Linked DNA regions of Homo sapiens. The protein of the gene in region 2 interacts with the protein of the main gene of each other region in a biochemical or structural test. Each region holds a gene or a part of one and is shown on either strand. Other genes may lie near its edges. The genes, in order: RPH3A and ADD2.

Region 1 (11,281 bases), on a different chromosome or scaffold from region 2:
AGAGGCCTGTCCTTTGCCTGTAGCAAATCTGAGGCAGGAGCCAAGTCCTTTCAAACCTTTCACCAACGACTGACTCATCATAATCAATACTAACTGAGCACCTACTGTATGCAGGCCTCTGGCTGGACCACAGGCCCCAAACTGACATGTTCGCTAGTAAATCAGTTGAGCTTCATTCATTCATTCACTCAGTAAGTCATTGCTGAGCACCTGCTGGGTGCTGACCCGGACACCAGAAATGAAGATATCACAGCCTTGGCCCTTAAGGATCTCACCCTGTAGCACCTGAGGACTCCTACAAAGAAGTGCCATAGGCATTTCCCAGGGAAGGGAAGGAAGGCTCAGGTTTCCTAGAGAAAATACACGGCTCAGAGCTTATAGCCTGGGATGATTCAGCAAAAACCTCCCAGGGACTTGAAGGAACAAAAGACTGAGTGGTCACCAGTGCTTCTCCTCCTAGAATTCTTCTCTGGGGCCTACCCCCCAGGCTCATGACTCCCCTGCTAGTTGCTTAGAGCCTCACAAGCCAAACAGAGAGGGAGTCATTTTGCCCATTTCACAGATGAAGAAACTGAGTTATGGGGACCTGCAGCAACTGGGGAACTGCAGTGGGGAACAAGAGGGGCTGGCAGCTCCTGTCTCCAAGCTTTGTCCTCCCTCTTGTGAGTCATACAGCTACACAACTAGCCCAAAGAACTCACCTTCCTCTACCTCACCCTACTTTTGTTTTGGTCAGGGGTGATTTCACTGTTACCATCACCAACATCGCCCCGATTGCGAACATTTGTTGGATATTTACTCCTTGCCAGACTCAGTATAAAGTGATCATTAACTCTTAAAATTCTCACAACTGCATTCTTATTCCCATTTTGTAGATGGGAAAATTGAGGTCCAGAGAGGTGAAGTGACACAATCAGAAAGTGCTAGGATCAAGATCTAACCCTAAGAAATTTATTTCCAGAGCCCATCCTCTTAATCCCTATATCATGCTACCCTAATACACCTAATTGAAGAAACTGAGGCTCAGAGAGATTAAGGGCCTTGTCTGAAGTCACACAGCAAGGAAATGCCAGAGTCAAAATTAGAACTAAGATCTGACCGCCCCCAGAGCCCACACTGCAGCCCCTGGCTGGTTAAGAAGGTAGATAGGTGTGAGGCACAGAAAGAAGGGGGCTATTTCTGCAGTACCTCCTTCACTCTTTCAGCACATCAAGGCTCTCCATCCTGGGTGGCAGCTGAATTATTTAAAATCATCAGCTTCAGCCCACCATGACTGGGTCCCAGAATTATTTTTATCCCAGATTATGGCCACAGCTCTTAACAGAAATAAACCACACTGTTTTCTTCTCATTGGCTTCACATCAATTCCTGGCTTATCTGCAATTACAATCAGCTCCCCACTGAATGAGGGTGAAGGGCAGAAGACAGGTCCATGTGTCATGGTGGTTTTTATTGGAAAGCCATAAACTCTGTAGGACCCATTCACAGAGAGGGAAAGAGTTAAAGCATAATGTCACAGCCTACAAAGAAAGCCCAAGAGCAGCCACCCCAACCAAATGCACATCTTCAGACAAAGCAGCCAGTCTGTGTACGGAGCAATAAGAAGGAGAAAGGCAGAGTAGGCTGGGGGCACTGACTTTCCAGGCTACCCCTGTGGAATCACAGAATCTCTGTCTGCTGCCTCTCTCCTGCCAACAAGAAAGGAAATGTCCACATTTGTCTCCATGGCTAAGCTTCCTGATTACCAGCACGGGCTGGAGAGACACTGCTGAACATCCTTCCTCTGTACCTCAGGCTGGACTGGGGGAGTAGGGGCTGCTGGAGCCAGGAGTGAGGGGATGATGCCTTGGTCTTCATAATGGTGGGTTTATATGTTGCTGCCATAACTTACTGTGTGGTCTTGGGCAAATTGTTTTTCCTCTCTGGGCCCCCCTGGAAAGGGTTAGACTAAATCAGAGGTCCTGAACTTGGGGGGGTGCTCACATGGGCATTATTGAGGATCCACTAACCCCCTGATGTTGTGTGTTTGTGTGTATATGCATCTTTTCAGAGCAGAGCCTCTCCAAGGAGTCCTTGCTGCTACTCCTGAGAAGAGTCTCTTTGGAGCCTTCAAGTGCTGCAAAATCTACATCTCTGTGCATCTGAGGCCATAAATAAAGCAGACCCCTTTCCAGCTGAGCTCAGGATTCTAGAAACCTAGCAAAGTTCTCACAAGAGACTCCCCTATCCCCAATCACCCCAAACAGGGCCTCTCCCCGACACAGGATAAATTCTCAAGCACAGTGCTAACCCTTCCTAGAAATGTGGGCATGTGCAGTCACTCACACTCACACACATACCTATCTCATAGTCAGAGAACCCCAGAACTTGAAGGGGACTTAGGGCCACCCAGACAGACTGCCCCATTGCATAGATGGGGAAGCTGAGGCCCAGAAAGGGGAGACAGCTGGGACTGGAACCCAGGTCTCCTGACCCAAGTCCAAGGCTCTTTCCAGAAGCTTCTCTTTCCCTTTCCCTGGTGCACCACAATGCACCACTTCAAATGTGATGGGGGAGGAGGGAGGGCGGCCTCTTGGATCTTGGCCATCCCTAAGGAAGTGACCCAGTGGAGAGATATTTGGGAAGTGTCCACATCTGGACACCCAAGTATTAGCTATCCCAGCTGGGCTGGCCTGTACTGCATGGCTAAACCAGTTGTTAAAAATATTAAAATAAAATATAAATATTAAAATTAAATGGGGATGCTGCCCTGAGGCCTCGTGGCTCTCTTGATAGCCCCCTAAGATCCCCCCAAACCTCTCCATAATCCAGCAATTAAAAGATTAACACTCAGTACAGCAGGGGCCCCCTAAGATGCCCTATTCCAGGACCCTAGCCATTCTGATCGATTAGTACCAAATTTCAATACTTTAAATATCACCCATAGCCAGATATGTGGTTCTTTTTTTGAACAAAATTTCCACACATTCATTATTCACACTCAAGTCTTCCCAGTGAGGAATCTAAGGCAACTTCCTCCTCAAGGTCACCCAGCAAGAGAAGCTAGGAAGAGAAGTTAGGGATTTTGAGAACCAAATCTTTGACACTAACCACCAGACAACCCTCCTCTTCTGCCTCATATGTCCTGCCTGAGCAGGCACATGCTGTGGGATTTCAGCATCTCTTCTTAGCTATGGGGCTAGAGAAAAAAAGAATGAGTGAACCCTGCTTATATTTCAGGCTTGCCAATCTCTGACTGTTGTTTTATTCCTCCCACCTCCAAGAGCAAGAATCTAAAAAGGAAATCCTTGGGGGTGCAGAACACTGAGGTGGCCCCTGAGATAATAGCAAAAATGCTAAAAACAAGGGCATTCATTTCCAGAAAAGTAGATGTAATCAAAGCAGAAAGCAAAGTGAAATCCCCTTTTGATGGGTAGCAGATTAGCATCAAAAGCATTTCAAAATTAAATGTGAGCTTTTGGATTCAATTTCAAGGTACTTCCACTTCCCACTCACTAACAGGTTGGTGCAGCCTTTCCCCATCAGGATCTTGGAAAAAGAAACTAGTGCAGGGGGACGGTCTACCCTGGAACAAAACTGAAGCTGAAGCCTGGAATCTTTCCCCAGAATTTGAACAAGCTTTGTTCCCCTCCTTCCTTCTGAGATGAACTCAAGGATAGAATCTCCCAAGCTAGTGCCAGGACGCTCCCCCATACAATCACTTACAGGTTACGCCACCTGTGAAAATAAAACATCATCTCCTCTGCAGGCAGTGGCTGCTCCCTTCTGGCCAGCCTGACCACTCATCCCAGGCATAGTGTGGCCCTTTCCTGGCTCCCAGGTCTTCCATCTCAGGAAAGCGTGAACAGCCAACCTCGCAAAAATCACCACAATTAAATTACTCAGCTGTTCCTAGAAGAGGGTACAATCTAAGCTCTGTCCTGTGCAAATCTTACCCAGTGTGCCCAGGCAAAAGTTACCCTTCCAGTCTCAGGTGACCCCCTCCCCTCCAGGGATAAGCACTCACTTGCTAAGTCAGAGTACCCAGAGTCCCTCCATGCTAGACTAGCCAGCCCCACGAAGGGTTAACTCTCTCAGAGAACTGCCGGCTACTTTCACCAGCTTCTGCTGCAAAGGAGAGGGCAAATTGGGCAGAAGCCACAATCTTGATCGCATTGCCTACAACATGAGCACATTTTACCCCCTCCCTGGGCACTAAGCCAAAATCTCATTTGGCTTTGGGATGCCGCTTAGGTGATAAAACACTGCAGGATGTAGGCAAATAAGCATAGTCGTTCCTCGATACCCTTCTCCTCCCAACTACCCTTTACCCCACCAGCTCATGAACACACATCACAATTGGGATTCCAACACCCCTAGCCCATCTGCACAACCCGGGAGAATATCACTTACCGCGACGCTGGAGGCTTGCAGGGGGAATGGGTGAGCCAAATTCTTGCCAACTCCTCCCTTCCCTGCCGGGTAGAAAGACGCTAAGTCCCAATGACTTGGTTTAAAAGCTCAGCGGAGGTGCCTGAAAGAAAATTGTTCATTTGACTCTCCTACTCTTCCCAAAATAAAATCAAAGCACCAGTGCACACACGTAGACACACAGACACATCAACTACCCCTAAATCATGCAGGACCAAGACAAAAAGAAATACCACTGCCAGAAGCGGAGAAAACTCGGACCAGCCAGTGAGTCAGTGGACAAGGGACAGTGGCTCCCTCAGACTGTCCTCCACATGGATGAAGGTTTTAGCTCTGTGAGTCTCTCTCTCTCTCTCTCTCTCTCTCTCTCTCTCTCTCCCTTCTCCCTTCCTTTCCAGTCCGCGTAGGCAACTCCGGGCTGCTGGCAGTAGACGAATCAATTGCTTCCCCAGAGCCAGTTTCTGCCGCGGCTGCCACCACTACTGCAAAGCCCTGTGTGAGCAAGGGAAGCGGGGCGGCAGCTTCCCAGTGCAGGGGGAACCAAGCGGGAACCAAGCCTGCCTCCCACCCGTGATTTATGTGTGCGGTGCCTGGAGAAAGAAAGGTGGGAGGCCGGGAGGGGAGGTTGGGCGCACCAGAGATCCCAGCTGGTCGAAACGGCAACCAGGGGATTGGCGGTCAGCACCACGGACAGCGCTAAGATGCCTTGGAGGAGGGGATGGGTGGGAAGCGAACCCCTAGGCAGAGAAGTTAAGTAATTGGATGGTTAAAGCAGAGAAGGGGGGAGTCCGGAGGGGTGGGGGACGGGACTTCTCGACATCACACAGTCTAGTCAGTGACAGCTTACCTACCACACACTTTTTCTAATACTGTCGCTCACTCTCAGAGCAAAGGAACTATAACTTCACAGCCCCTGTCTCCCACACGCCCCCAGTCCTGCATTGCTCCTCTCTGCTCAGACAAGAGCTTGGCACCGGTGTGGGGGGCTCCCTAAGTGGTTTTGCCCCTCAAAGTTTCGCCCAGATGACCTGTCCTCACCCCCATTGCTGCAGATTTTTGACCTGTACCTGGAGTTTCTCAGAATTCAGAGCAGAAAAGCTGAGGCTTAAGAAATGGAAATTTCTAAGGGGCAGGGTGGCTTAGTTGAATAAGCACTTGATGGTTTTCTGGAAGTCAGATCCAGCCCCCTTACAACTCTGGAAAAGTCATTTAATGTTTCCAAGTCCCATCTGTGAAAATGATAACATAATGACCTTATTTTTCCTAAAGATAGGAAGCAAGAGGTTAAAATGCAACAATAAGAATACCCAAGCTGTGAACTGCCATGATTTCATGGTCCATAACCTGTCCTAAAACACAAATGTTTGGACAGAGTGATAAAGGAATTGACAGCCCAGCTAGGATGGCATGTGCCAACCTCACCCTTCAGCAGGTGGTTTGAGTAGAATGAAGGGAAATTTTAGGTCTAAATCAGACCATTGAGCCTTGGCCAAAGAGCCTTCCCCGAAAGATCCAGACTGGCTTTCTGAAGTGAATTCACTATATGGACAATGAAATAAAAGTATCAAAAGGGGAAATATATAAAGATGAATGGATTCCCATGGCTCCCAGTGCTCCATATCTCAAGAGTCCTATTCCTCCTAACTTTGGGAAAGGGCTCAAATTGGAAAAAGGCCAGGAAATCTCAAACAGACCAAGATCTGCTTAGAACTTCTCTGCAAAGTGAAGGAGAACTCTCTCTATTGGAGACTCATATCTAAAGCTTCCCATCCAGATGGCCCAGGGTTAACTACTACATTTGTCACTTACTTCTCCCCATGAGACCCAGGAGTTAAAATGAGAACATTTAGAGCTCATTTAAAAAACAATTTTTTAAAGACAGTGTCTCTGCCAGGCGCGGTGGCTCATGCCTGTAATCCCAGCACTTTGGGAGGCCGAGGCAGGTGGATTACCTAAGGTCAGGAGTTCGAGATCAGCCTGGCCAACATGGTGAAACCCCATCTCTACTAAAAATACAAAAAAATAGCTGGGCATGGTGGTGTGCACCTGTAATCCCAGCTACTCGGGAGGTGGAGGCAGGAGAATCACATGAACCTGGAAGGCAGAGGCTGCAGTGAGCCGAGGTTGCACCATTACACTCCAACCTGGGCAACGAGAGTGAAACTCCATCTCAAAAAAAAAAAGAAAAAGACAGTGTCTCACTCTGTCACCCAAGCTGGAGCGCAGTGGTGCAATCATAGCTCACTGAAACCTTGAACTCCTGGGCTTAAGTGATCCTCCCACCCCAGCCTGTCCAGTAGCTAGGACTCAAGGTGCACACGAATATACCCTGCTAATTTTTTTTTTTTTTTTTTTTTTGCAGAGATGGGTCTCACTATATTGCCCCAGCTGGTCTTGAACTCCTCGCCTCAAATGAACCACCTGCCTCAGTGGTGGTGGTGGTGGTGGTGGTAGTAATTGTCATCATGATGGTAATCATAGTGATGATTATAGTGATGGTGTTGATTGACAATGATTATGCTGATGATGTTGATGGTGATGATTATGGTGGTGGTGGTGGTGGTGGCAATGATGGCTGCTATTGAAAACCTACTATGTGCCAGCTCTTCTGCTAGGAACTTTACATGTATCATCTTCTGAAGTCCTCACCATGACCCTTTCAGGACACTAGTATTATTCCCATCTTGCAAATGAGAAAACTTAGACTCAAGAAATAAAATTCCTTGCTCAAGGCTTCACAGTAAGTTACAGACACAGCATTCAAACTCAGTGTCGTATGATTCCAAAGAACATGCTCCAGGATGTCTCTCAGAGTTCATTTCAAATGCATTCTACAAGTTTGAGGGGAAAATTTTCATCGAATATTTTCTGGGATGATCCTGTGACATAAATTCAGTGTCCTCAATTTACAGATGGAGAAACTCGGGACCAGAGACGAGAATTGACTTGTCCATAATCAAAGAGCTAGGAAGTAGCAGAGTTGAGTATAGAATGCAAGCCTTTCAGATGCCAGGACCTGTGGTCTATTGCCTAGGGCAGTCCCAGGCACATAGGAAACCCTCAATAAACAATATCGTTTGTTTTATTTGAGACAGAGTCTTGCTCTGTCACACAGGCTGGAGTGCAGTGGTGAGATCTCGCCTAACCGCAACCTCCACCTCCTGGATTCAAGACGTTCTCATGCCTCAACCATGCAAATAGCTGGGACTACAGGTATGCGCCCCACGCCTGGCTAATTTTTGTATTTTTAGTAGAGACGGGGTTTCGCCATGTTGGTCAGGCTGGTCTCGAACTCCTGACCTCAAGCGACCTGCCCACGTCGACCTCCCAAAGTGCTGGGATTACAGGTGTGAGCCACCACACCTGGCTGCCTCAATAAACATTTGAAGAGTGATTCAAGAAGCCCAGGGAGAAATGAAAGTCATTTAGGATGCTGGTGGTGGAATCAGAACCCAAGTAGTTCCCAGGCCTCTTGGCTTCCAATCCCAAAGAATTTCTCACAGCTTCCCCAGCCATTAGGCATGTATTCTGGGAGGGCCTCTCATGAATTCAGCTCTCCCTTAGGGAATGACAATAGCTACCACCTGCTGCATACCTAGACACTTGCCATGTGTCACGCATTGTACTAAGCACTTTACAGTGATTATCCCCACACTTCACAGCTACCTGAAGTGGGTGCTATTACTGCCCCATTTGCAGACAAGAAGCAGACAGATGATGTGAAGCCCCCAAACTCACACAACCAGGGAGCAGCAGAGGCAGGGATGCAAATCTCAGGTCTGTCTGACTCCAAAGCCTGTGTTTTCATGACCCTGTCAGTTTTTCCTAAACCAGGCCCCCTAGAGGCCCCTGTGGAAATGAAAAGAGGCCTCAACTGACCCTCCACTCTGGTTTCAACTAGAACAGTTAGTGGTGCTTTTAACTGTTTTGCATACTGGGCATCTGCCCAAGCCTTCATTGAAACAAGGATTTTGCACCAAAATTAAAAAATAATAATATGGTTGAAACCTGAGCTCTCCACCCTCTCTGGTCACCATGCCATCTAGGAACTAGCCTTGTCTTGTCAGGGGACCTTGCCCCATCCTGCCCACCTCCCTGGTCACCACTGCCAAACCCCTCTTCTGTCCCGGGTGCTTCTGGAGAACCCTTTGTTCAAAGAACCAGCTGCTGCTGTAAACTCCACCAGCCTGTGGCACTGCAGCAGGGAGACACCTCAAAACCCAGACTTCTCAAGGCTGAGCCCGGCCAGGGTCTGACTCTCTCGAGGCTTCATTCAATGATAGAACATTGCGAAGATTCCTCAGGCCGCAATTCAGCAAGCTGCCTTGCTCTACCCTTGTTTTATGGAGCAGAGGCAGCCCAGTAAGACTTTCCATCACCCCAAAGAGGATGGGAAATGATGAAGGTAGTAATAGCTACAGCAACAAATGCTACCCACTACCTCCTGCACAATTTGTATATGTGCAGCGGCATCATCTCATCCTCCCAACAATCCCATTTCAGGATGATAATGGTTTCATTTCTGTTCTATGAAACTGAGACTCCTAAAGCAACTAGCCTGAGGCCATTGAGTTCATAAGTGGTGAGACTGGAATTTGAACCAAGACCCTGTGAATTTATGATCATTATGCTATCTGGCATTCCTAATTCCTAATCATCTCTCCTTTTGCAGGGGGCAGGTGCTTACTATTTACCAGGTGCCATGCTTTATCTCCCCAGCACTATTCATGACTGACAACAGTGAAAGGAGGTTGTGTTGTGCTATTTACCCATTTTCAAGATGAGGAAATCAGACATGGAGAGCTCAAGTGACTTGCCCAAGATAACACAGCCAGGAAGAGGGGGAGAATGGGGTGTGAATCTGAACAGTTTATCTCAAGGTCCTCTGTGCTTTTCTGTCTCCCAAGGAAATGGGCACTGAGATAGCCCATTTCACTTAGCAAGTGTGGTAGGCAAAATAATGGCCCCAAAAGATGTCCACATTTTCATCCCCAAAAGGGGTTAATAGATTACCTTAAGTGGCAAGTGGGACTTTGCAAGTGTGATGAAGTTGAGGATCTTGAGGTGGGGAGATTATCCTGGGCTATTTGGGTGAATCCAATGTAATCACAAGGGTCCTTATAGGAGGGAGGCTGGAGGGCCAGAGTCAGAGAGGAAAGGTGTGGATGGAAGTATAGGGGGAGAGAGAGAAAGAGAGGTAGGGAGAGGTATGAAGATGCTTTGTTACTGGTCTTGAAGATGGTGGAAGAAGCTACCAGGTAAGGAATGTGGGCAGGCTCTAGAAAATGGAAAAGGTGAGGAAAAGAGTCTCCCTGAGAGCCTCCAGAAGGAACACAACCCCACTGCTGACACCTTGGTTAAAGGAATTCTGACCTCCAGGACTGTAAGATAATTAATCTATGTTGTCTTCAGCCACAGAGTTTGTGGTTATTTGTTACAGCAGCATAGGAAACCAATATAGCAAGTCTGCCAGGGGACCCTACATTAAGAAGCCCATAGCAAATCGGCTTTAGGAATCATGACTGAGCTCCCTCTTAGACAAAGAACCCAGTGCTTCAATCATACTACAACCTGTTCTGAACAATACCATGTGTGTGCCCTACAAGAGAAAGGAAACATGCTCAAAGCTTTAGCCTGAACACTGGGCTTTGTCGCTGGATGACACTGCTAGGGCGTCCATGCCTTCCTCACTCCCTCCTCCTTCTCCTTTAAGAGCCTCCAGGGAAATGCTACTGTCAGGGACACAAAAGGGAAGAAATGTCACAGGGCAGCTTTCCAGGAGCACAACTCATCACAGGGAATCGGTCAAAGATAGAACAAGTAAACGAAACAGAGAGATTGGCGTGCAAGAGAAAGAGAAAGAACACGAGACAGAGAGAGAAAGGATTGCTGGGTCCCTGAGATCGGCCTATGTGCACTGACAAATCCCTTCCCACAAGGAAAAGGGCAGTCGTGGGGAAGCCCACTAACCTCCTTAGGAAAAGACACAGTAGGACTTGGCGAAGCAAGCTTTCAAGACAAGTCAACAAGTTTTATTTATTAATCAGTCAATTCCACGTTACCAGGCAAGGCTCTGCCAGGGGAAGGGAACTTGGACTTGCCTTCTCTGATACTTGGAGTTTGATTTCAGCTCCCTACTTCCCAGTTTGGGACCTTGGCATGTCACTGGCATGCTCCGAACCTCAGTCTCCTCAGCTATAAAATGGGACCACCATACCTTCCCCGCTCATCTCCTGAAGCAGCCAGGATGTTTCACTGAGCTAATGAATAGCAATGAGTTTCGTATACTCTAAATGATGAATAACAGCTACCATTTACTAAGTTTCTACTGTGTGCTTATCCAGACTCCTATCCTCAAGGAATGCAGTGAAAACGTCCAGCCCAAAGTGACCATAAGTAAGAGGAAAAGGACAGCAACAGCAGAGACGGCATAATGAAATTGTTAAGAGGCCAGGTTCTAGAGCTAGGCTGCCAGTGTTCAAATCTGACTCTACCACATGCAAACTGTGTGACCTTGAGGAAGTTACTAAACCTCCCTTTGCCTCAGGTTCTCTGTCTGCAAAGCAAATGATAGCACTTCCTTATATGGTTGTTGTTAGGATCACATTAGCTAACATACGTTAAAGCACTTAGAGCAGAGCCCGGCACATAGGCAGCCCCATGTCTGTCATCTTTATTCATTATCATGGCCATTGTGATTATTATTTATCATGGAAGAGAGGTATCTTCCAATGAGTGATACACATTGTGCTGAGATCCAAAAGATGAAGTTAGGTATTCTAAGGATGTTTATTTTTTCAGTGTTTAGATGTTACATTTTTACTTTAAAGCACATTAGAAAATTATTATATTCCCACTTACAGCAGTGACT
Region 2 (10,616 bases):
ATCACACGCTGGTCTCCTCTGATCTTCAGCATCCTGGTGAGCTTCTTTTTTGTGATATCGAGGTTGACCTGTTCCCATTATCTGGTTGGGAAACTGGGCATTCTCAGTCTTTTTCTGGATGTTCTTCTTTTTGTCGATGTAGCTCAAGATTGAATTAGTTTTTTAGACTAAAACACATAATTACAGTTATTTAGTGTGCACCTGTTTATAATTGAATCACAAGCCTCTCATTACTTGAATTCCTAATGCTAAGATGACTTAAGCCCCTCAATCACACATGATAAGAGTAAATAGTTAATAGCACTTGCTATATACCAAGCCCTGTTTTAAATACTCCACATACATTAACTTCACTAATCCTCACAAGTACGTTTCAAGGTAGTTAATTTACTACAGTCCCCATTTTATATGTGGGGAAACGGAGGCACAGAGCAGTTAACTAGCTCAAGATTACACAGATAATAAGTGGCACAGCTGAGATTTGAACCCAGGTAGTCTTGTTCCAGAGTCTGTGCTTTTAATCGCTAAGCCATTCTGCACATAACTTTTTGGAGACAGAAGGAAGGAGCACAAGAGGATGCCTGTGATTCACAAAGCCAAAGGGTTGGCTCAGGCCCCTGCTGTGATGGTGATGGAGTCAGGGCTTCCATGTCCTACACCACCCCCATCGGAGTACCTCTGGAGCAACCCTCTGGGGCAGGGCTCTAAGAAGGGAAGGCAGGCCCTGGGGCATAGCGGTGTGAGCTCCTGTCCATCAGGCCCAGAGCTTCTTGGTTCTTTGTACTTCAGGGAGGGCAGAGCTACTTCACAGCCTTCACAGATCAGTTACTGGGGAATGCAACCACTCCATGGGGAAGGGGAGAGGGTCAACCTTTTCCTGCCTGGAAGGCTCAGTACAAGGCTGTGCTGGCCAAAATGATCCCAGTCCCAGAGAAGCTGAGAGTTCAGTTGGCTTAGAGCCTGGAGTCCTAGGGAGCACAGGGGGCTCACATGCCTATGCTCACATCCAGTGTACTCACTGGGGAAGGGGAGTTGCTTGTTGCTGTTTTAAAAATAATATAAAAGGTTCAGGGCTTTGAAAGTGCCAAAGAGAATTAATTTACTATGATGAGTCACTAAACAGAGAAGGAGTGGGGTTCGATGAGGTGATGTCTCTGGAAGAATTTTGTTCTGCCGTGCTGCCTGCCCAGAAGAATCTGAGTGGGGGCCACATGTCTGTGTGGCTCTGATGCAGTTCTATTATGTTTGACTTTGTCATCCCTTCTTATCCTCAAGGTCCAGGGATGAGGTTGGGTGTGAGCATGATAGAGGTGAAATATTCTTAACTAACGCCATGCACGTGGGACTGACTGGAATCCACAAGGCCAATGTGTGTTCTTTGCAGATGTTTCTCTTTTGGCATCTGACTTGTGGGAGAGGCTCTGGGGGAAAGCGGGAAGATCTCTTGCTCCAGGAAACCCAGATCCTCCATGCTTCCGCCTTTATTACACGAATGTATCTGTCTCCAACTCAGATAAATCATAGAGTGTCAGAGCTAGAAGGGACCCCAGAGGTCATTTGGTTCATTTTCTGATTTAGAGCTGGGCAAAGTGAGACCCAGAGAGAGGCAATGACTTGCCCAAGCCCATGCAGCTACTGAGTGACAGATAGGGGCAAGATTGCAGGTCCCTGACTTCTAGTCTAGAGCTCAGTCCACCAGCAACATCCCTGACTCACTCTTTTTCCATTCAGATGAAAGGAAAGGGTCTGGATTTAAATGTTGCCAAGTATGACCACAACCATTCTAGCAGCCTGCCAAATCTGTTTCAAAATCTTTCTTTACAGAATCTTTTTTTTTTTTTTTGGCTCCCACTCCCAGCAGACCCCTTCCCCTACCTCCGACCCTTCATCTCCGTCCCCTATTATCAAATATTTTGTCAACACCGCTGGTAAGTGTGGTGCTGGTTGGGGGAGATCAGGTAAGGGCTTTCATAAGAAGATGACTAACTAGTGGAATGATTAAGATCATAGGTCCTGGTTTGGCAGCTTTGCAGAAGTGGGCCATGGTGGCATTTGGAGCACTCCCACTGCCTGTTAAAAGAAAAATTTTAGATGAATTAAACTTAACAGAGTTTGAGCAAAGCATGATTCAGGAACTTGGGAGCCCTCAGAATCAGAATGGTTTCTGAGTGACTCTGAGGCTGCCACATGATTGGATACATTTATGGACAGAAAAAGGAAAGTGACCTACAGAAAATGGAAGTGAGATACAGAAATGACTGGATTGGTTACAGCTTTGTATTTGCTTTATTGGAATAGTGTTTGAATAGTTGGCTACCTGTGATTGGTGGAAGCTCAGCTGCTGTGGTTGGCTGAGACTCAGCTACTTGTCACAAGAGTAGGTTACAGTCTATTACACATCAAGTTGGGTTACAGTTTATTATACGTGGAAAAGCCCTTAGGCCACACTTAAAATATGTAAGGAGGCAGCTTTAGGCCAAACTTAATGTAACATGTCCCAGGCCAAGTGTATGATAGCAGATGGTGGTTTGAACGAGGGGAGGGGCCTAGACAGCTATGGGACTTGGCCTGTGATGTGAGAGTCAGATTATGTGAGGTTTTGTGCCATCTTATGTCAGACTTGCTAGAAATGGCCAACACCTGGAATGGATGCCTTCCATTACATGTTGCAACCATTAACATCTAAACTATGGATATTTCAACCGAGGCTGCTCACTAGGGATTAGGGAGCTTTTGAAAAATCCTGATGTCCAGGTCATACCTCAGACTAATTATATTAGAATATCTGGCATCAGTACTTTTTAAAGTTCCCAGGTGATGCTATTGTGCACCCAAGGTTGAGAACCACTGCTCTAGGCTGAGGGCTCAGGCCATCAGCTGACCCTTGAGGAACTCTGTCCATGCGCCTTCCCTTGAACGAACTGTTTGCCTTTCCCCTAGAGGAAGAATGCAAACAAGAACAACAGGAAACCATCTGTGTATTCTGGGCTGATGGGATGGCCTTCCACTGTCCTCCAAGCTTATCTATGGCATCATTCTCCCCTCACCCCACCCAGAGAGACTGCAAAGGTAGTGTGTGGAGTTCTGGTAGAATGTGGAAGAAGAGGTTACAGGCAGCTCAGGGACAACAAGAATATGCTCTACTGGACATCAGCAAAGCCTCCTTTGTAATGAGCTTCTGACCAGAATCAAGGGTAGGCTGGGGCCAACAGGACTGCTGGAGCAAGGCCGGAGGGAGCCAGGACTGGCCAGCCACAGGCAAAGGGCAGATCAGGACCTGGGAGGCCAGGAGTCTTCTCCCAAAGAACAAGAGAGCATTCCATCTCCTCATGGAATGGGAGCCCATGGAGGTAAAGCAAGGGAGTGGCAGGTTATGGATGAGAACCCAGGTGTCCTGGTCCCTTGTAATGCTCTTTTATTTGTATCTTCACATATATGTTAAAAAGCTAATTATTGTTCAGCCAAAGTACATGCTGCCTTCTGCTGAGAAGAGAATCAGCCAGCAGGGAGAAGGCCAACGCTCTGTAAGGCCACCCTGGGTGTTGAAGGGGCAGAGCACCGATTTGAAGGCCTTGCAGTGCCGACACAGGAAAGGAGACGGGCTTCGCAAATTCCCACTGCCGGGAAGTGAAGCCCGGAACTGCAGGCTTACTCTTCAGAAGGGCTCCAAGATAGCAACAGAAAACATTTCTTCATTCATCATTCACACATTTTAAAAAGTATTCTTGATTAGAAAAAATCCACAGGTTTCCCCCAGCTTGACTTTCCAGAGGCTGTCGTGGTCCTTGCTCCAGGGAGCAGGTTTACACGCAGCACGTGGGGCTCTGGCAGCCGGGCAGCATGGCACCCTGCAAACCATATTTAGTTGTTGTTTCTCAACATGAGTTGAATGGGATTGGAGAGAAAATAATTTTCCATTAATAAAGTTGCACACCTCTTTTTAAACTTGGAATAAGAATCTGATTCTGCATTAAAACAAGTTTCAGAAAAACAGATTCACCAATAAATTCCTTTCCAGGGGCCAGAGCGAAGTTTAAGTTGTAAAGAAAAGCATTGGGCAAAGCGCTTCCCACGTTTCAGTAGTTCCTGTGCTCTTTTAGTAGTAGTCTTAGTAGGCCCTGTTTAATAGTAGTATTCTTTTGTGAATTTCCCACCATAATTTTTTTTTCTTTTTAGTTCTGTGATACGTGTGCAGGATGTGCAGGTTTGTTACATAGGTAAATGTGTGCCATGGTGGTTTGCTGCGCCTATCAACCCATTACCTAGGTGTTAAGCCCAGCATGCATTAGCTATTTCCACCATAATTTTTGAGGGGCCTTATTAGAGGGTTTCCATTTTAGATGAAGTACTGATTTCCAGTAAGTAGCTTACCACTGCATAGGTGTGCATCACAGAAATGCTCAACAAGGTCTGCAGGTCATGTTTCCATTCGGGGAACTCTCTACTCCAAGCCAAGTGTGACCATTTAAGGGCTGGCTAGTTGGGGAAGGGAGTGGACACCTGAACCCATGTTTTTACTTAGTCTCATGGCACAGCAGCGCCCCTATAGATGGGTATATGGGGCCGCTGCTGGCGTCCTGCCCTCCTCCCCAGGCTCTGCCTCTACCATCCTAGGAACAGCCGTACCCCACTGAGAATCCAACTGAACCTAGCCCTGTGCTCTGAGAAACGTGTACCCCGATGGGGAGCACCAACCTGACCGCATACCCTCTCCCCTTCTCTGTAGAGTTCCAGGAGCGAATTGCAAACCCACCGGGAAAATGAGCGAAGAGACGGTCCCCGAGGCTGCCTCGCCGCCGCCCCCGCAGGGGCAGCCTTACTTTGACCGCTTCTCAGAGGACGACCCCGAGTACATGCGCCTTCGCAACCGGGCGGCGGACCTGCGGCAGGACTTCAACCTGATGGAGCAGAAGAAGCGCGTCACCATGATCCTGCAGAGTCCCGTGAGTGGGGCTGACCCGGGCGGGAGAGGGCGCAGGGGGCGCTGGCTCTTCAGGACGTGTACCCACCCGAAAGATGAGTAACTCCTCTTTCCCTTGCTCAGGGTCAGTAGAAATGTAAGCCCACTGAGCAAGACGGATCTGGTCACCTGGGGCCTTGACACTCTCCCTTGTAACTGGTGGATGGCAGAACCTGGCTTGTGTGTGGCAGTTTGGCTTGGTGCGGGGGGAGGTGGGACGGAGACAGGAGTCCCCCTCAGTTTCCTGTGCCCCTTCGGAGCCTCAGTTCCCAGTCTTCCCTCCTCACCAAAAGCTATGACAGTGAACGGACAAATCCATGTAAACTAGAGACCAGCAGGGTGCCAGGAGGAGGGCTTGGGGCTCCCTTTACTGAACACCACAAAGTAAGAACTTTCTGTCGGGACAAATGAAGCTTTGACATGAATGGGATGGGGCTGAGGAGAGCCTGGAAGCCCCAGGAGGTGGGCAGAGTGGAGGGCTCAGCCGGGCTGTGGGATGGGGTGTGGGAAGGGAAGGCAAGTCGGGATCACTCACATCCCTCCTTACTTGGGGCCAGTTGGTTCCTGCCTGGCATGGACACAGCTCCTCCTTGAGGCAGGTAGTGCCTTGAGAAGGCCGAAGGGTGGGCCCTGTGGACCACTGAAGGCAGAGGGAGATCACTGTGGTGGAGGCAAGAGGGGTCTGACTGAGGAAGAGCTTGGGGGGCCTCAGGAATCAGCCCATGATCCTAAGGATCGGGAAGCCCAGGGACAGAGTTGGCATCTCCAATTGCTTGCCAGGATGGGCTCGAGATGGGAGCCGCTCTGCCTTGGCCTTCTGGGCTCCAGAGAGCCAGGGCCTGTGCAGGGGCTGTGTGAGACCCTGGCTGGGAGCCATGGTGCATACTCAGGCCACACAGAGCAGCTCCAGGGAATGGGCCGAGGTCCAATATCTGTGCCCAGATATTGTGTTGGGGAGCTGGGAGGAATATGGCAGATGCTGAAAGCATTGGGGTGAAGAGCCTCTGGGAAAACCCCCAGAGTGTGACTAGGAGGGGTGGCAAGGGGGTTAGGAGAGGCGGCAGAGTTAGCACCAGCCCAGATTTCAGGGCTCAGGCAGTAAATAGGGGTTGGAGGAGGGCCTGCTTCCTTCTTCCCTTTTACAGGTTGGCCAACACACCTAAGTGGCCCCCCATTTCCTCCTGAGTGTTTTCTCCTGCCACCTGGTGGGCAGGATTCCTTGCTTATGGCTTCATGGTCTGAAAAGCCAGGCTTAGAGTTGGACATCAGGAGTGGAAGTGACCTCAGAGGTCATCAAATCTTCCTGTTCTTCCTCCTACCCTTTCATTAAGCACATGAGGAAACTGAAGCCCGAAAGAATCACAGGCATCGCTAATGGAGAGGGATGGTGGCTCTCTCCATTCAGTTCTGCCTAAAAAAATGTCCTTCATTACTAAAGTGAAGTCCTACCATGTCTGATGGTGGGGAGGGGTCTTGGCCCTCATTTAGACACAGAAAGGACCTGGAATCTGGATTACTGCCCACAGGGCAAGGGAACACAAGATCCATTCCCAGCATTTCTTTGTTGCTTCCCATACAGCAATTCCTGAGGTCCTAGTGGAACTGCTCAGTGTCCCCTGTAGCTGGGGACCCTGAGCATGGCCCTGACCTAGCTGACCCAGGGGCAAGGGGTGGGCACTTGGAAGAGCTCATTGTTGGGCAGCTGTGTGAGAGGCTGTGGGGGGACAAGCACCTCGGGGCCTGCTTCAGTCTTTCAGGGAGGAGCTGGAAGGCCTCATCCAGGAGCAGATGAAGAAGGGGAACAACTCCTCCAACATCTGGGCCCTGCGACAGATCGCGGACTTCATGGCCAGCACCTCCCACGCAGTCTTCCCGACATCTTCCATGAGTATGTGGTGTCTGGGGAGCTGCCAGGAGCAGAGGTGGAGGGGAGGGTGGGGTGGGGAAGAGAGGGAGGAGCAGCAAGAAGCATCTGGTTGCCAGGCTATGGAGTAAGCAGCCCATTGTGTTATCAGGCCTTGGGGAGCTCAGCAGCAGCCAGAGAGGTACCTGGCTCTGCTTCTGATGTTGCTGCAAATTAAACGTCCACAGAAAAATTACCCCAATGCCAGGAATAAGAGGGTGGAGGTGACTTCAGTGGACGGGAAGAGACCACTGAAGCCTGTGTTTCCATGCCCCACTAGACAGGCCAACCTGACTCCACAGATGAGGGCTGAGAGGAGCCAGCCAGGGCTATGCAGGAAGCCACCCTCCTGGGCTGTTATGCTCTGCCCATAACGTTTAAAACACAAGCATCAAAAAATAACTCCCCCTCAATAAGATTATTACAGGATTATGGCTGAAAACTGTGAAAATAACCAAGAAAGGGAAGCAGAAATCATTCTACTGTGTTCTTAAAGCCCTCATATTACTATTCTTAATATTTTGGTGAACATATATCCTTCCAGTCCTTTTTTTCTTAACATATATAGATTATGCAAACACAAATGTAATCACATAAAATATGGTTCTATAATATAATTTTTGGTGGATACATGCTATTTAATAAATTTCCCATTGTTGGACTTTTAGGTTATTTCCAACTTTTTCTGTTAGGAACAATGCAATAAACATCCTTGTAAATAAACCTGAGATTATATCCGTGATTATTTTCTTAAGATAAATTACTAGTAGAATTGCTGAATTGAAGTACATGCATGCATGTTTTAAAGACTTTAATGCAGAATGGCAGATTACATCCTTTCTCCAAATGGATCCAATTTACGTTCCCAACAGTAATGCGGTAGAGTGCCCATTTCCTCTACCCTGGTCCATAGTGTATACTACCATTTGTTTCATCCTCCTGATTCAGTAGGTGACAAATAATACTTTATTTGTGTTTTAATGTGCATTTGTTTGACTACTGATGAGGTTGGATATATTAATGTATTTTCACATACATATTGGACATGATTTTCTTCCTTTCTCTCTCTCTTTCTCTTTCTCTCTTTCTCTTTCTTTCGTTTTCTTTTCTTCTTCCTTTCCTTTCCTTTTTCTTTTCTTTCTTTTCTTTTCTTCTTCCTTTCCTTTTTCTTTTCTTTCCTTTCTTTCACGCAGAATCTCACTCTGTTGCCCAGGCTAGAGTGTAGTGGTGCAATCTCAGCCCACTGCAACCTTCCAGGCTCAAGCAATCCTCCCACTTCAGCCTGCCAAGTAGCTGGGACCACGGGCACGCACCACATGCCTGGCTAATTTTTGTATTTTTTGTGGAGACAGGGTTTCACCATGTTGCCCAGGCTGGTTTGGCACTTCTGGGTTCAAGTGATCCACCCACCCCGGTCTCCCAAAGTGTTAGCATTACAGACGTGAGCCACCGTGCCCGCCCCTGACTTTCTTTTTATAGTAAATTGCCTTTTTACATCCTTTGCCTATTTTCCTATTAGTGTATTATTTTCTTATAGATTTTTACATTTTTATAAAGTAAAGCTGTTTCTCTATTATCTGTCAAATATATTGCTTTTTTTTTTTCCAGTTTCTCCTTTGTCTTTTAGTTTTGTCCATGGCATTTTTTTTGTCTTGTAGAATTCTTTAGTTTCTGTGTAGCGGAAACCATTGTAATTTTCCTTTGTGTGTTCTGCTTTTGATTGCATGCTTAGAAATACCTTTCCCATGTTTCATCATCTGATGGAACAAATACCCTTAATTATGCATTTGTCAATTTTCCTCAACTGTTTGTACAAGTTTATTCTTTACAATAACTTTAGGCCAGGCACAATGGTTCATGCCTGTAATCCCAGCACTTTGGGAGGCCAAAGCAGGTGGATCACCTGAGGTCAGGAGTTTGAGACCAGCCCGGCCAACATGGTGACACCCTGTCTCTACTAAAAATATAAAAATTAGCCAGGCATGGTGTTGCATGCCTGTAATCCCAGCTACTTGGGAGGCTGAGGTGGGAGAATTGTTTGAACCCTAGAGGTGGAGGTTGCAGTGAGCTGAGATTGCACCACTGCACTCCAGTCTGAGTGACAGAGCAAGATTCCATCTCAAAAAAGCAAAAACAAAAATCAAACTTTAGAATTATTTTATCAAGTCCCCCCATTGACCTTAAAAATTCCTTTTGGGATTTTGATTGGGATTACATTAAACGAATAAATTGATTTGGTGAAGAATTTATAAATTTATAATTTTATATTAGAATGTAAGCTCTGTAGGGGAAATTTGTAAGTTTGGTCCACTGCTATATCCTTTGATTTAGAATGTATCTGGCACATAGTAGGTACTTAAAGATATTTACATGAGTGAATTGTAAATCTTTTCAGAAATGAGATATGTCTTTTATTTATTTAAGTCTTCTTTCATATCCATCAGAGAAGTTTAGTAATTATTTTCATGTAGTTCTTACTAATTTCTTATGAAGTTTACTCTGAAATTTTTAAATAACTTTGTTATTTTAAGTGAATCTTTATCCATTCTATTTTCTTTCTGGTTATAGTTCTCATTTAAGATAAATTGTTAGATATATATATACATATAAGTGTGTGTGTGCATGTGTGTATACACTAGCCCCTTATTGAACTCTTATTTAAATTTTAATATCATCTCAGTTAATTCTTTTGGGTATTGTATATACAAAAATCACATAATCTGCAAATCATGATCATTTTGCTTCCTTCATTTCAACATTTACCCATTGGTTTATTTTTCCAGTTTTCTCATTGCATCTGTTAGAACTTTCAGAACAATGTTTAATAATAGATTAATTATCCTTGTCTTATTTCTGACTTTAATGGAAGTTGTTTTACCACAAGAGTTTGAGACAATTATTTTTTATCGTGTTGAGGAAATATCTTTTTATTCTAGTTCACTATGAGTTTTTCTCAGGAATGGATGTTGAATGTCATAAAATACATTTTGGCCATTTATTGGTTTTTTTTTCCCTTGAACTATTGAGGTGATGAGTTTTAGTAACAGATTTCTGAGTATTGAACTCCTTTTTCATTACTGAAATAAATCATTCTTGGTCTTGATGCATTCTTTTAAAAATACCCTTCTGGATTTGATTTTCCAGAATTTTATTAAAGATTTTTGCATTCATATTCACACATGAGATTGGTTAGCAGTTCACTTTTTGGGCAGTCTTTACCTAGTATTGATACCATGACTGTAATTTCATAACATGAATCAAGGTGATTTCTCTCTCTTTTTTACCCTGATATAGTTTAAATAAGATAGGAAATCTCTGTTCCTTGAGATTTATTATTCACTTAGAATGTCATCTAGATCTGGAATATTTTTAGGGATTTTTGATGTTTTTGTCCTCAGTTTCATCTGGGGTTTTAAAATTTATTTTGCTGCTTCTTGGTTAAATTTTCGTCATATATTTTGTGTAAAATAAACCATTTTATGGAGTTTTTCAAAATTATGAGTCATTTACAATATTATTTTTATCATTCAAATTTCCTGCTAAAGTAGATGAGATAACATCCCATTCTCATTCCTGGTGCTATGTAAATTTTTGCTTTCTCTTTATTGACCAATCTAGATATTTGTTTATTCATAGATCATCTCACATAAGCCAATTCTTGGATTTACTTATTGGTCCTGTTATTCTTTCTGCTTCCTGATTCATTAGTTTTATTTCTATATTCATTAATCCTTTTCCATAACTTTTCTATTT

What was found.
Region 1: the proteins of ADD2 (region 2) and RPH3A form a complex in vitro, tested with the Homo sapiens proteins (one study listed by BioGRID).

What each region holds. Positions count from the first base shown.
Region 1 is NC_000012.12:112,785,375-112,796,655, reverse strand, and holds the start of RPH3A (rabphilin-3A), read right to left. Parts: upstream 4,909-11,281; 5' UTR 4,644-4,908; intron 4,514-4,643; 5' UTR 4,393-4,513; intron 1-4,392. UniProt on the Homo sapiens protein: Plays an essential role in docking and fusion steps of regulated exocytosis.
Region 2 is NC_000002.12:70,700,553-70,711,168, reverse strand, and holds part of ADD2 (beta-adducin), read left to right. Parts: intron 1-4,726; coding exon of another isoform or gene 4,727-4,760; coding exon 4,761-4,943; intron 4,944-6,709; coding exon 6,710-6,848; intron 6,849-10,616. UniProt on the Homo sapiens protein: Membrane-cytoskeleton-associated protein that promotes the assembly of the spectrin-actin network. Binds to the erythrocyte membrane receptor SLC2A1/GLUT1 and may therefore provide a link between the spectrin cytoskeleton to the plasma membrane.